Homo sapiens: one gene and its partners. The protein of the gene in region 2 purifies or fractionates together with the protein of the main gene of each other region. This does not show direct contact. Each region holds a gene or a part of one and is shown on either strand. Other genes may lie near its edges.

Evidence for each region.
Region 1: the proteins of DNAJC19 (region 2) and DNMT1 purify together in Homo sapiens (affinity purification with mass spectrometry, with the first as the bait; one large-scale study listed by BioGRID). This does not show direct contact.
Region 3: the proteins of DNAJC19 (region 2) and YME1L1 purify together in Homo sapiens (affinity purification with mass spectrometry, with the first as the bait; one large-scale study listed by BioGRID). This does not show direct contact.

The regions. Positions count from the first base shown.
Region 1 is NC_000019.10:10,153,322-10,156,974, forward strand, and holds part of DNMT1 (DNA (cytosine-5)-methyltransferase 1), read right to left. Parts: intron 3,189-3,653; coding exon 3,070-3,188; intron 2,625-3,069; coding exon 2,532-2,624; intron 1,736-2,531; coding exon 1,584-1,735; intron 1,453-1,583; coding exon 1,265-1,452; intron 1,159-1,264; coding exon 972-1,158; intron 1-971. UniProt on the Homo sapiens protein: Methylates CpG residues. Preferentially methylates hemimethylated DNA. Associates with DNA replication sites in S phase maintaining the methylation pattern in the newly synthesized strand, that is essential for epigenetic inheritance.
Region 2 is NC_000003.12:180,983,187-180,986,867, forward strand, and holds the end of DNAJC19 (mitochondrial import inner membrane translocase subunit TIM14), read right to left. Parts: intron 2,811-3,681; coding exon 2,740-2,810; intron 1,525-2,739; coding exon 1,454-1,524; 3' UTR 523-1,453; downstream 1-522. UniProt on the Homo sapiens protein: Mitochondrial co-chaperone which forms a complex with prohibitins to regulate cardiolipin remodeling.
Region 3 is NC_000010.11:27,147,832-27,151,484, reverse strand, and holds part of YME1L1 (ATP-dependent zinc metalloprotease YME1L1), read left to right. Parts: intron 1-2,444; coding exon 2,445-2,579; intron 2,580-3,653. UniProt on the Homo sapiens protein: ATP-dependent metalloprotease that catalyzes the degradation of folded and unfolded proteins with a suitable degron sequence in the mitochondrial intermembrane region.

The DNA of each region.
Region 1 (3,653 bases), on a different chromosome or scaffold from region 2:
AGTTACACAAATAAAAACAAATGATTTTAGGGCTGGGCACAGTGGCTCACACCTGTAATCCCAGCACTTTGGGAGGCCGAGGTAGGTAGATCACTTAAGGTCAGGAGTTTAAGACCAGCCTGGCCAACATGGTGAAACCCCATCTCTACTAAAAATACAAAAAAAATTAGCCGGGTATGGTGGCGGGTGCCTATAATCCCAGCCACTCGGGAGGCTGAGGTGGGAGAACTGATTGAACCCGGGAGGCGGAGGTTACGGTGAGCTGAGATGGTGCCACTGCACTCTAGCCTGGGTGACAGAGAGAGACTGTCTCAAAAAAATTAAAAAAAAAAAAAAAAGATTTTAGAAGTTATAAAACATTGGACACACGTGTGTTAACCAAGAAAAATAAAATAAAACCAAAATAACAATGGTGAGGACATGCAGGCTCCTGTTAAGAGATGCCAGCGGGGATCAAAAGCAAAGCCCTGAAGCCAGTCTTTATCCAAAAGAAAGTCAGGTAATAGGTATCAAAATAGTCCTGGTCTTTGGGTCATAGGACTAGGAAGTTAGTTCCTCCTGAGTGAAGTAAACATATATTTTAAAAACTCACAGAAAGGGACGCCTCCTGAGGGCCTCAAATCTAAGCTGGACAAAGTGCCCACTTAGATGTGAATACCCCTTTAGCAGTCCAACAGGGGCCTTCAGACTGTGAGATGCAGGCACAGCAGAGCCACCCAGAAGCCAGGCTCTTCAATTAAGGACAGTGGCATTATCAGCAAAGCACCCAAGCATGCCTCTGTGGACATCTGTCCTATTGACGTTCAATGAAGTATGCAGGGTCCTCCCAGACCACTAACTAATTTCTGTCTCAGGGGTCACATTTGAGCAGCCAGAGTCTCAAGCCACAGAGAGAAAGATGGAGCAGTCCTCAGATCAGGCCAGAGGCTGGGCCACCTTAGGGGAGCGGGAGCACCCACAGGTGAGGTTACCTCACAGACGCCACATCGCCGGCGCTTAAAGGCGTTCTCCTTGTCTTCTCTGTCATCCTTTTCAATTTGCTCTGCGAAGAAAGTATCGAAGATCTGGTAGACCAGCTTGGTGGTGGTGGCTTTCGTGGGTCCCCTGTCCTTCTCCCTGGTAGAATGCCTGATGGTCTGCCGCCTCGCCTGGGCTCGCCTACGGGAGAGGTTCCAGCATCTCAGAGGACTGGGACAGAGGATGTGGGCCATGCTCTACCCTCCCCGGTCTCCAGTCTTCACTCTGGTCCCTGCCGCATCCTTACCTCTGTCCCAGCGTGACCCCAGCCAGCTTGATCAGGTCCCGCATGCAGGGTGTCAGGAAGATGGGCTGCTCATCACTGTCCCCGGCCTCGTCATAACTCTCCACCTGCTCCACCACAAACTGCGCGTGTCGCAGGAGGGAGTCCTCTGTGAAGCGGTTCAAGTTGAGGCCAGAAGGAGGAACCGTGGTCTTGAAAGAGAACAGGTTTCTCTCATGCTTAAGCCAAACTGGCCTAAATCCAACTGAAGAACAGTGTCTGCTGGTTCTGAAGGCAAGTTTCCAGTGGGAATCCCGGATGCTGAGGACCCTCGATCTCTTACCTCGATCTTGTTGATCAGGTCCTCATAGGTCGAGTCGGAATTGCTCTGCAGGAACTCCACCACAATCTTGCTGATGTAGATCTTCTCCTGCATCAGCCCAAATATGGGCGCATACTCGGGACTGGGATCCATCAGAATGTATTCGGCAAATGCTGGGGTGAACAGAGGAGGTGTGGAAAAGGGGCTGGAATCTGATGGCGCCTACAGTGGCCACAGGGCATGGAGGAGTCTACCAAACTCACCCAACAGTCTAAAAGTCATCCCGTACCCAAATGTCAGAAACATAGGGCACAACACATCATAGCTGGCTTGTTCTGAAGAAGCCTGTCTGAGCCAGCCAGAGAGCGAAGACTAGCTGAGTAGGCCTTCATTGAGCTCATCTCTGGTGTTTGGAATTCAGTCTGGGTTTGGGTTGCAAGAATAAGACCTGCTCTTTTTTTTTTTTCAGGGGAGGACAGAGTCTTGCTCCGTCACCCAGGCTGGAGGGCAGTGGCGTGATCTCGGCTCACTGCAACCTCTGTCTGCTGGGTTCACGTGATTCTCCTGCCATAGCCTCCCAAGTAGCTGGGATTACAGGTATGCACCACCATGCGTGGCTAATTTTTGTATTTTTGGTAGAGAGGGGGTTTCACCATGTTGGCCAGGCTAGGCTGGTCTCGAATTCCTGGCCTCAAATGATCCCCCCAACTCGGCCTCCCAAAGTGCTGGGATTACAGGTGTGAGCCACCATATCCGGCCAAGACCTGCTCTTACAACTGGAGAGTCAGTTCCAGAGCCAGTCATAACTAACACAAGAGGCTACCCCAACTGAACCTGCTAAGGTTCCCAGTCACATGGCCTTCTGCAAGCCTGCTGAGAATTCCCACCAGAGCCCCGTCAGCCCCCAGGAAGGAGAACATGAAGGCCCCTTTCAGACCCCGGCCAGCCTATGATGGGCCACACACTTACAGGTGCTGAAGCCGATGAGGGCCTTTTCACCTCCATCAAAGCCAGTGATCCACCATTCATTTATGGGGCCAAGATTTTTGCCATTAACACCACCTAGAGCAGAAAAAGGAAATGGACTAAAGGCTCTGACTCACATCCCAAACCCAGGAGGCGCTCTAAGCGCCCACTCAGCAGACATCCCATCAGCCAGGTCGGGTGCTCCTCAGTCATCACAATGACTTGGCCTACAGCTGCTCCTGGCACAAAGTCTCACACCCTAACTTTAAGAGGCAGCAGCAACTCCAGCTGACTATTGCTTCATAAGTATGTTTTTTATTTATACATATATATAAGTATATATGTATACTATATATATATGCTATATATTTTTTTTTAATAGAGGCAGGCTCTTGCTATGTTGTCCAGGCTCGTCTCAAACTCCCGGGCTCAAGTGATCCTCTGGCCTCAGACCCCCAAAGTGCTAGGATTACAGATGTGAGCCACCCTGCCTGGCTGTTTTTAAAGTGTGCCCCAAACATAATCCCGGACTATTCCTTACCTTCAAGAGATGGGTCATCATCATAGATTGGTTTTGCTGAACCAGAAAAGAAGAGTTCGATATTCTTCTCGATGAGGCCGGTGTCGATGGGACACAGGTGACCGTGCTTACAGTACACACTAGACAGGAAACAAAGCACATGCTTACCAGCTAAGCCGTGAAGGCGGGTCTTCGTGCAGACTTCAGATCAGGCACGAGGCAATGAGAGAATGTACAAGTCTGACACTCTTTTTTTGTTTGTTTTTGAGACAGAGTCTTGCTCTATCCCTCAGGCTGGAGCGCGATGGCATAATCTTGGCTCACTGCAGCCTCCACCTCCCGGGTTCAAGTAATTCTCCTGCCTCAGCCTCCCGAGTAGCTGGGATTACAGGCCTGAACCACCATGCCCGGCTAATTGTTGTATTTTTAGTAGGGACGGGGTTTCACTATGTGTAGCAGGCTGGTCTCAAACTCTTTATCTCCAGTGATCTACCCACCTCAGCCTCCCAAAGTGCTGGGATTACAGGCTGAACCACCATGCCTGGCCCCGACACTCATTTTTTGGTTGCGGGAACACTGGATTAAGACAGCGTTCTATCACCCAG
Region 2 (3,681 bases):
CTGGCAGACAATATTGTGACCAAAGGGTCACAGAATCTGTATTTCTCTTAGGAACTTGTTCCTTATTTGCTAATTCAGTGTTCATAGCCACCTTAAAGAACAGAATTACCACAAACAAGAACCAGCTGTACTTTCATGTCTCCTTGTCCCTGGAAATAATTTATCCTGCATAAAAGCCTTAGAAGCTAGTGTTTCATCATACACTAAATCATAACAGACTCCATCAGATTTTAAACGAGGGTATTGGATAGAAAACACAAAGAGCAGATATACCTTTACTTTATAAGGCAGATAAATATTACCTCCACTATTTTTTTAACCTCAAAAGTCCTTGTATCCTCCAATAATTAAGAAACTTATGATGACTTAAGGAAGTTTAGACGGTAGGTAGTATAATTTATCATCTTAGAGCTACACATAAGAAATACTCCTGTTGAGAAATACATACTAGTTTATACCAGATGTTTTATACAGGTCCTCTTAAGATCCTTATATATTTTATGTTAGACAAACAGTAAGTAATTTGCCTTTAAACATCATTTAAATTTATTAGTGTATAAATTCTAAAGAGTCCAAATTAAATATGTTGATATTGAGAACATTTCAGTTTTCAGTTTTGCTAACAGGGTTTAAGCTTAATCATAACAATTGCAGAAGTTTGATTATGTCAAGAAATAGCCAACTGAAGGAATAATTTATAAATGGTCATTACCTTTAAGGGGCTAGCTGAATACAATGTAAATACTCATGCCTGTAATCCCAGTACTTTGGGAGGCTGAGGCGGGAGGACTGCTTAAACCCAGGAGGTTGAGGCTGCAATGAACTGTGATTGTACCAGACCTGTACTCTGAAATCTTTATCATACTATTTTTAATGCATGAAATAAAAATGGTTTATATGTACATAGAATACACACACACACACACCCCTAGGTCAATTTCTTAGGTCTCAGTTGTGGTTAAATTCACTTTTAAATACAAGGTTCCAAGTATCCAAGTTGCCAGGCCAGTTGCCTGTACCTGGAACAGCCTTTCCACCGAATAAGAAGAGTCCCTACTTAAACAGCTTAAGCTAATTTCCATCATACTATTTATCACAGTCTAATTACCAGTTTATCAGTCTCCCATTAAAGTGGGGGCTCCCTGAGAGCAAGGACTGTCATCTTCACTTTGCCTTGAAAAGTAGACATAGGTCCCAAATTATCTGCTAAATGAGTAATGAACAATATTTCTATTCAGAAGGTGTGTGCTTGCCCATAATTAATACGCAAATATTCTAAACTATAATCTGATTTAAAATCCCCAAATTTAAACAAGAAAATTATACCAAGGCTTTGAGATTTAGCTTGTGCTAAATCATTTTTTAAAATTGTAGCTCTGAGGCATTTTATTATAAAAACTTAGTACTCATATACATAAACTAATACGAACTTAAAATTCATCATACATTTACTTCATTTTTTAGCTTGACCTTCTAGTAAATCTTTAGCTTCATTGATTTTGGCTGCTATATAAGGAGATCCTCCTATAGGAAGAAAGAAAAAAGAACAGTTACAATATGGATTCTCAATTTCTGCTTGGTAAAAAGCTACTCTTGTTTCAAGGACTCCAATGCTTATCTGAGGGAGATTTAGCAGAAACAGTGTTTTAATTTTTAAAAAATAACCCTGACACTGCAACTGGATGACCAAATATATGGTAATATATGTGACCAATGAGAAATGAAGTAATTTACGTGGGAGATATTTCTACAAAAATAACACCTTTTTAGAAAGCTTAAACTGATAGAAATAGGATTTCTATCATATATATTAGATATATATGTATATGCCTTTGAACTGGTGTTAGCCTATTCATGATTACAGGTCATAAATGAACATCAATTATACCATGTTATTTTAATACCATGATATTCTCAGAGGCTTCTGAGCTGTTTACTGGAAAGATCCCAGTTTGCTTTACATCCTTTTTCTGTCCAGTTTTTCTTTTCCTGTTATCTACTGTCCCTTCACAATGTCATCTACAGCTGCTTTCCTACGAATCTGCTGGAGGAGTGATTCTCAAAGTATGGTCCTAAGACCAGCAAGAAATAACAGGAAATTTAGTATAAATGCATATTTATGGGGCTCCACTGCCGACCTACTGAGTCAGAAGCCCTCCATATAAAACAAGCTAAATTTCATAAAAGATACTGTGAAGTAGATATCAAACAATTATAACCCTGTTTAAAATGTCAAAACCCTTTTTATTAATGAAAGCCCTCTCCTGTATAAGTAAAAGGATACAAACACTAGAACATGAATTCTGTGGTCTATTTTTTGGTATTCAAAGAAATTCTTGCTTTCCTTCAACACAGCCAAGGCTGCATAGAAGTCTATCACAAACGAATAAATAAATCCCATAAGTTTCTATCTAGGTAATCTCCGTTTCAAGGTATCTAAAATGGATAAGGAAAAATTACATTTTAGTTTTACGAAATTTAACGTTTTAATTATAATAAATGTAGGCCAGAAAAACCCACAAAACATAGTAATAGTAGCACTTACATCTGCTCATTCTGTAAGTAAAGTTTTCACTTAATTTCTTTTAAGACACCAAAAATATATGGCTCCAGCCTAGGAGACAGGACTTACAGATTTAAGTGTTACCTTTCTAATAGCCAGGAATTTGAGATAAAATTATCCCATTAATAACTATTGGTCACACCAACAACATCAACGAGAATTTAATGACTACTTACCTTTGTCAGGATGATTTAAAAGCATAATTCGTCGATGAGCATCTCTTATTTTCCCTTTATTGGCAGTAGGGCTAATTAAAAAAAGAAATGGTATTTACTTCATCCTACTTCTGCATCACATCAAAAAACTGTACATAAAGGCCAATTAAAGACACTGTGAAACTGTAGTAAATTAACACAACAGTATGAAAAGCTGTTTAGAAACCTCAACACACCCAATGCGTATCCTAAATTGGGAAACTACTTAGAAAAGTAAGGCACTCTCAAAAATGTGTTGAACTTGCAGTACCCATTACAACAGTCCTTTTATTGATAAGAAACGCATGTTTAAGGATTTGAAAATGAAGAAGGAAGAGTTTTGTTTTTTTTTTTTTTTGAGATAGTCTCACTCTGTCCCCTAGGCTGGAGTGCAGTGGCTTGATCTTGGTTCACTGCAACCTCGGCCTCCCGGGTTCAAGCGATTCTCCTGCCTCAGCCTTCCGAGTAGCTGGGATTACAGGTGTGTGCCATTACGCCTGGCTAATTTTTGTATTTTAAGTAGAGACGGGGTTTCACCATGTTTGCCAGGCTGGTCTTGAACTCCTGACCTCAAGTAATCCACTGGCCTTGGCCTCCCAAAGTGCTGGGATTACAGACGTGAGTCACCGCGCCCGGTTGAAGGCAGAATTTCACCACAAAAAAAATGTCAGTTACAGAGAACAACACTGAACACTGTGATAATCTGCTGAGGAGTCTATCTTTAAATAAATGAAAAAGTGCCTGTGTTTTAGTAAACACTCTAGGAAAAAAGAAAAAGTGCTTAAGTGCTAGTGTGCCTTCTCATTTGAAGGATTGTTTACATCTTAAAAATAACATGAAGGAACAGTACAGTTTCATTGATTAGAATTGGTAATATCAATCTTCCTAGGACAAAATCCCCCATGACCCTCTCCTATTAAAGGA
Region 3 (3,653 bases), on a different chromosome or scaffold from region 2:
AATCTTTGTTGTCTTCATCTATTAAATGGTCTGTACCCACAATAATGGCGTTAGTCCATTGATGAGGGCAGAGCCCTCCTGAACTAAATGCCTCTTAAAGGTCCCACCTCTTAACAGGATTACAGTGGCAACTAAGTTTGCCATTGTTCTCAACTCAAACTTGAGTTTTGAAGGAGATAAACACTGGAATTTTTACTGGAAGTGGGCCCTGATCCAGACCCCAAGAGAGGGTTGTTGGATCTCGCACAAGAATTCGAGAGAGTCGCCAGGCGCGGGGACTCACGCATGTAATCCCAGCACTTTGGGAGGCAGAGGCGAGCGGATCACGAGGTCAGGAGATCAAGATCCTGGCTAACATGGTGAAACTCCATCTCTACTAAAAATACAAAAAAATAGCTGGGTGTGGTGGCCTGCGCCTGTAGTCCCAGCTACTCGGGAGGCTGAGGCAGGAGAATCACTCGAACCCAGGAGGCGGTGGTTGCAGTGAGCCGAGATTGCATCACTGCACTCCAGTCTGGGCGACAAAGCGAGATTCCATCTCAAAAAAAAAAAAAAAAAAAAAAAGGCGAGAGAGTCTATAAAGTGAAAGCAAGTTTATTAAGAAGGTAAAGGAGTAAAGAATGGGGTACTCCATAGGCAGAGGAGCTGCTTGGGCTTGTCCACGAAGGATACCTACAGTTAGTTATTTCTTGATTTTATGCTAAACAATGTGTGATTATTCATAAGTTTTCAGGGAAAGGGGGACCCCTAAGGTTCCTCCCCTTTTTAGACCACATAGGGTAACTTCTTGATGTTGCCATGGCATTTTTAAACTGTCATGGTCTGGTGGGAGTGTCTTTTAGCATGCTAATGCATTATAATTAGCACATAATGAGCAGTGAGGACTAGCAGAAGTCACTCTCCTCTCCATCTTAGTTTTGGTGGGATTTGGCTGGCTTCCTTACTACAACCTGTTTTATCATCACGGTCTTTATGACCTGTATCTTGTGCCCACACCCTATCTCATCCTGTAACTTAGAATGCCTAACCTCCTGGGAATGCAACCCAGTAGGTCTCAGCCTCATTTACCCTCATTTTGCCCCTACTCCAGATGGAGTCACTCTGGTTCAAAAGTCTCTGACAGAACTGTAACAAGAAGTATAATTGTTACTCATTATTATAGCTGTTTGAGGATTAAATGGGATGATAGAAGTAAAGCCTGTAGTACTAAACCTGGTATATAATAAGAACCCATTTAATGTATTCATTTACTCAACAAATATTTATTAAGTAAATTTTTTTTTTTCTTGAGACAGGGTCTTGCCATGTCATTCAGGCTGGAGTGTGGTGGCATGATAGCTCACTGCAGCTTCAACTTCCTGGGCTCAAGTGTTTTTTTTGTTTTCATTTTTATTTATTTATTTATTTTGAGATGGAGTTTTGCTCTTGTCACCCAGGCTGGAATGCAATGGCATGATCTTGGCTCACTGCAACCTCCGCCTCCCAGGTTCGAGTGATTCTCCTGCCTCTGCCTCCCAAGTATCTGGGATTACAGGCGCCCAACACCATTCCTGGCCAATTTTTTTGTATTTTTAGTGGCGATGGGATTTCACCACGTTGGCCAGGCTGGTCTCGAACTCCTGACCTCAGGTATCTACCTGCCTTGGCCTCCCAAAGTGCTGGGATTACAGGCATGAGCCACCATTCCCGGCCTACTTACTATTTTTTTTTTTTTAAATGTTGGATGTATTTCATTCTGTGGTAGTTTCTTTTTTTTTTTTTTTTTTTTTTTTTGAGAGACAGGTCTCACCCTGTTGCCCTGGCTAGAGTGCAGTGGCATGATCACAGCTCACTGCAACTTCCGCCTCCTGAGATCAAGCAATTCTTCTACCACAGCCTCCCAAGTAGCTGAGACTACAGGCGCACACCATCACACCCATCTAATTGTTGTATTTTTTGGTAGAGATGGGGTTTCACTGTGTTGGTCAGGCTGGTCTTGAACTCCTGACCTCAAGTGATCCACCCACCTCGGTCTCCCAAAGTGCTGGGGTTACAGGCGTGAGCCACTGCACTCGACCAGTGGTATCATTTGTTTTGCCGCTCCCCTAATGCTGGATGTTTCCAGCTTTCTACTATTTTTTAAATGTTTCGATGAGAGTTGTTCTCTATGCATGTGCAAGTACTTGTCAGATTATTTCCTTATAATAAATTCCTAGAAGGTGGATTGCTACAAACAAGAAATGTATGTATTTTTGATACTTTTGATTTACATATTCAGAATAATATCCTGAAAGAACATACCAGTTTTCGTCTCACCAGCAGTAAATCTGAGTACTTACAGTTTTTAGTATACAGAGTTGATATATAATGTACCTTTAACTCTTAACAAATCCTGACAAAAAAAGGAGATTGTTCTGTTTATTTAAAAAAAAACTACTTAGTTTTTAACTTTTATCTTTTTCTAGGTTACAGTTCCTCTGAGTCATCTCATCAATGCCTTCCATACACCAAAAAACACTTCTGTTTCTCTCAGTGGAGTGTCAGTTTCTCAAAACCAGCATCGAGATGTAGTTCCTGAGCATGAGGCTCCCAGCAGTGAGGTAAGTCTTTATCCTGGTTGTGTGAGAAAGCCTTTTTGATATACAGTTGACCCTTAAACAAATGAAGGATTAAGGATATTGTCCCTCCCCCGTAGTCAAAAATTTGAGTATAATTTTTGACTCCTGAGAAACTTAACTACTAATACCCTACTATTGACCAGGAAGCCTTACCGATAAAATAAAGGGTCCATTAACATATATTTTGTATATTTTATGTATTGTGTACTGTATTCTTACAATAAAGTAAGATGGAGAAAATGTTATTAAGAAAATCATAAGGAAGAGAAAACATATTTACCATTCATTAAGTAGAAGTGGACCATCATAAAGATCTTCATTATCTTCAAGTTGAGTGGGCTGAGGAGGAAGAGGAGGGGTTGGTTTTTCTGTCTCTGGTGGCAGAGACCGGAGAAAGTCCACGTATCTGTGGATCTGTGCAGCTTTAATCTGTGTTGTTCAAGGATCACCTGAGGTCAGGAGTTCAAGACTAGCCTGACCAATATGGTGAAATCCCATCTCTACTAGAAATACAAAAATTAGCCGGGTGTGGTGGCGTGCGCCTGTAGTCCCAGCTACTCAGGAGGCTGAGACAAGAGAATAGCTTGAGCCTAGGAGGCAGAGGTCGCTGTGAGCCAAGATCGCACCACTGCACTCCAGCCTGGGTGACAACAAGACTCTGTCTCAAAAATAAATAAATAAATAAATATAAAAATGTAATCTCATTTTTTGGTTTAATCTAAAAAAAAACACCTGTTTTTACAGGGAAGTGGAATAGGTAGGGATTTAAGAAGTAAATAAAACTCTTAAAAAAATAAAGGACCAGCAGATTTAGGGAGCAGCTCATACTTCTAGGGCTGAGATAGAGTCAGGAAGAGTTCTCCATCCCCAGGGCTGAGATCCTGACATTGTTGGCGAAGGCATGGCCTTGGCTCACTGAATGGTAGAAAAGTTGCTGTGATGTCATGCCAGGGTAACGTGCTAGAAATCTGGGAAGTCTGCCCTCTAGGATACTGGGAAAAGCTGTTCCTGGGGATGTGTCCTACTAGAGAAGCTGTTACACGAGTGGTGCCAGGG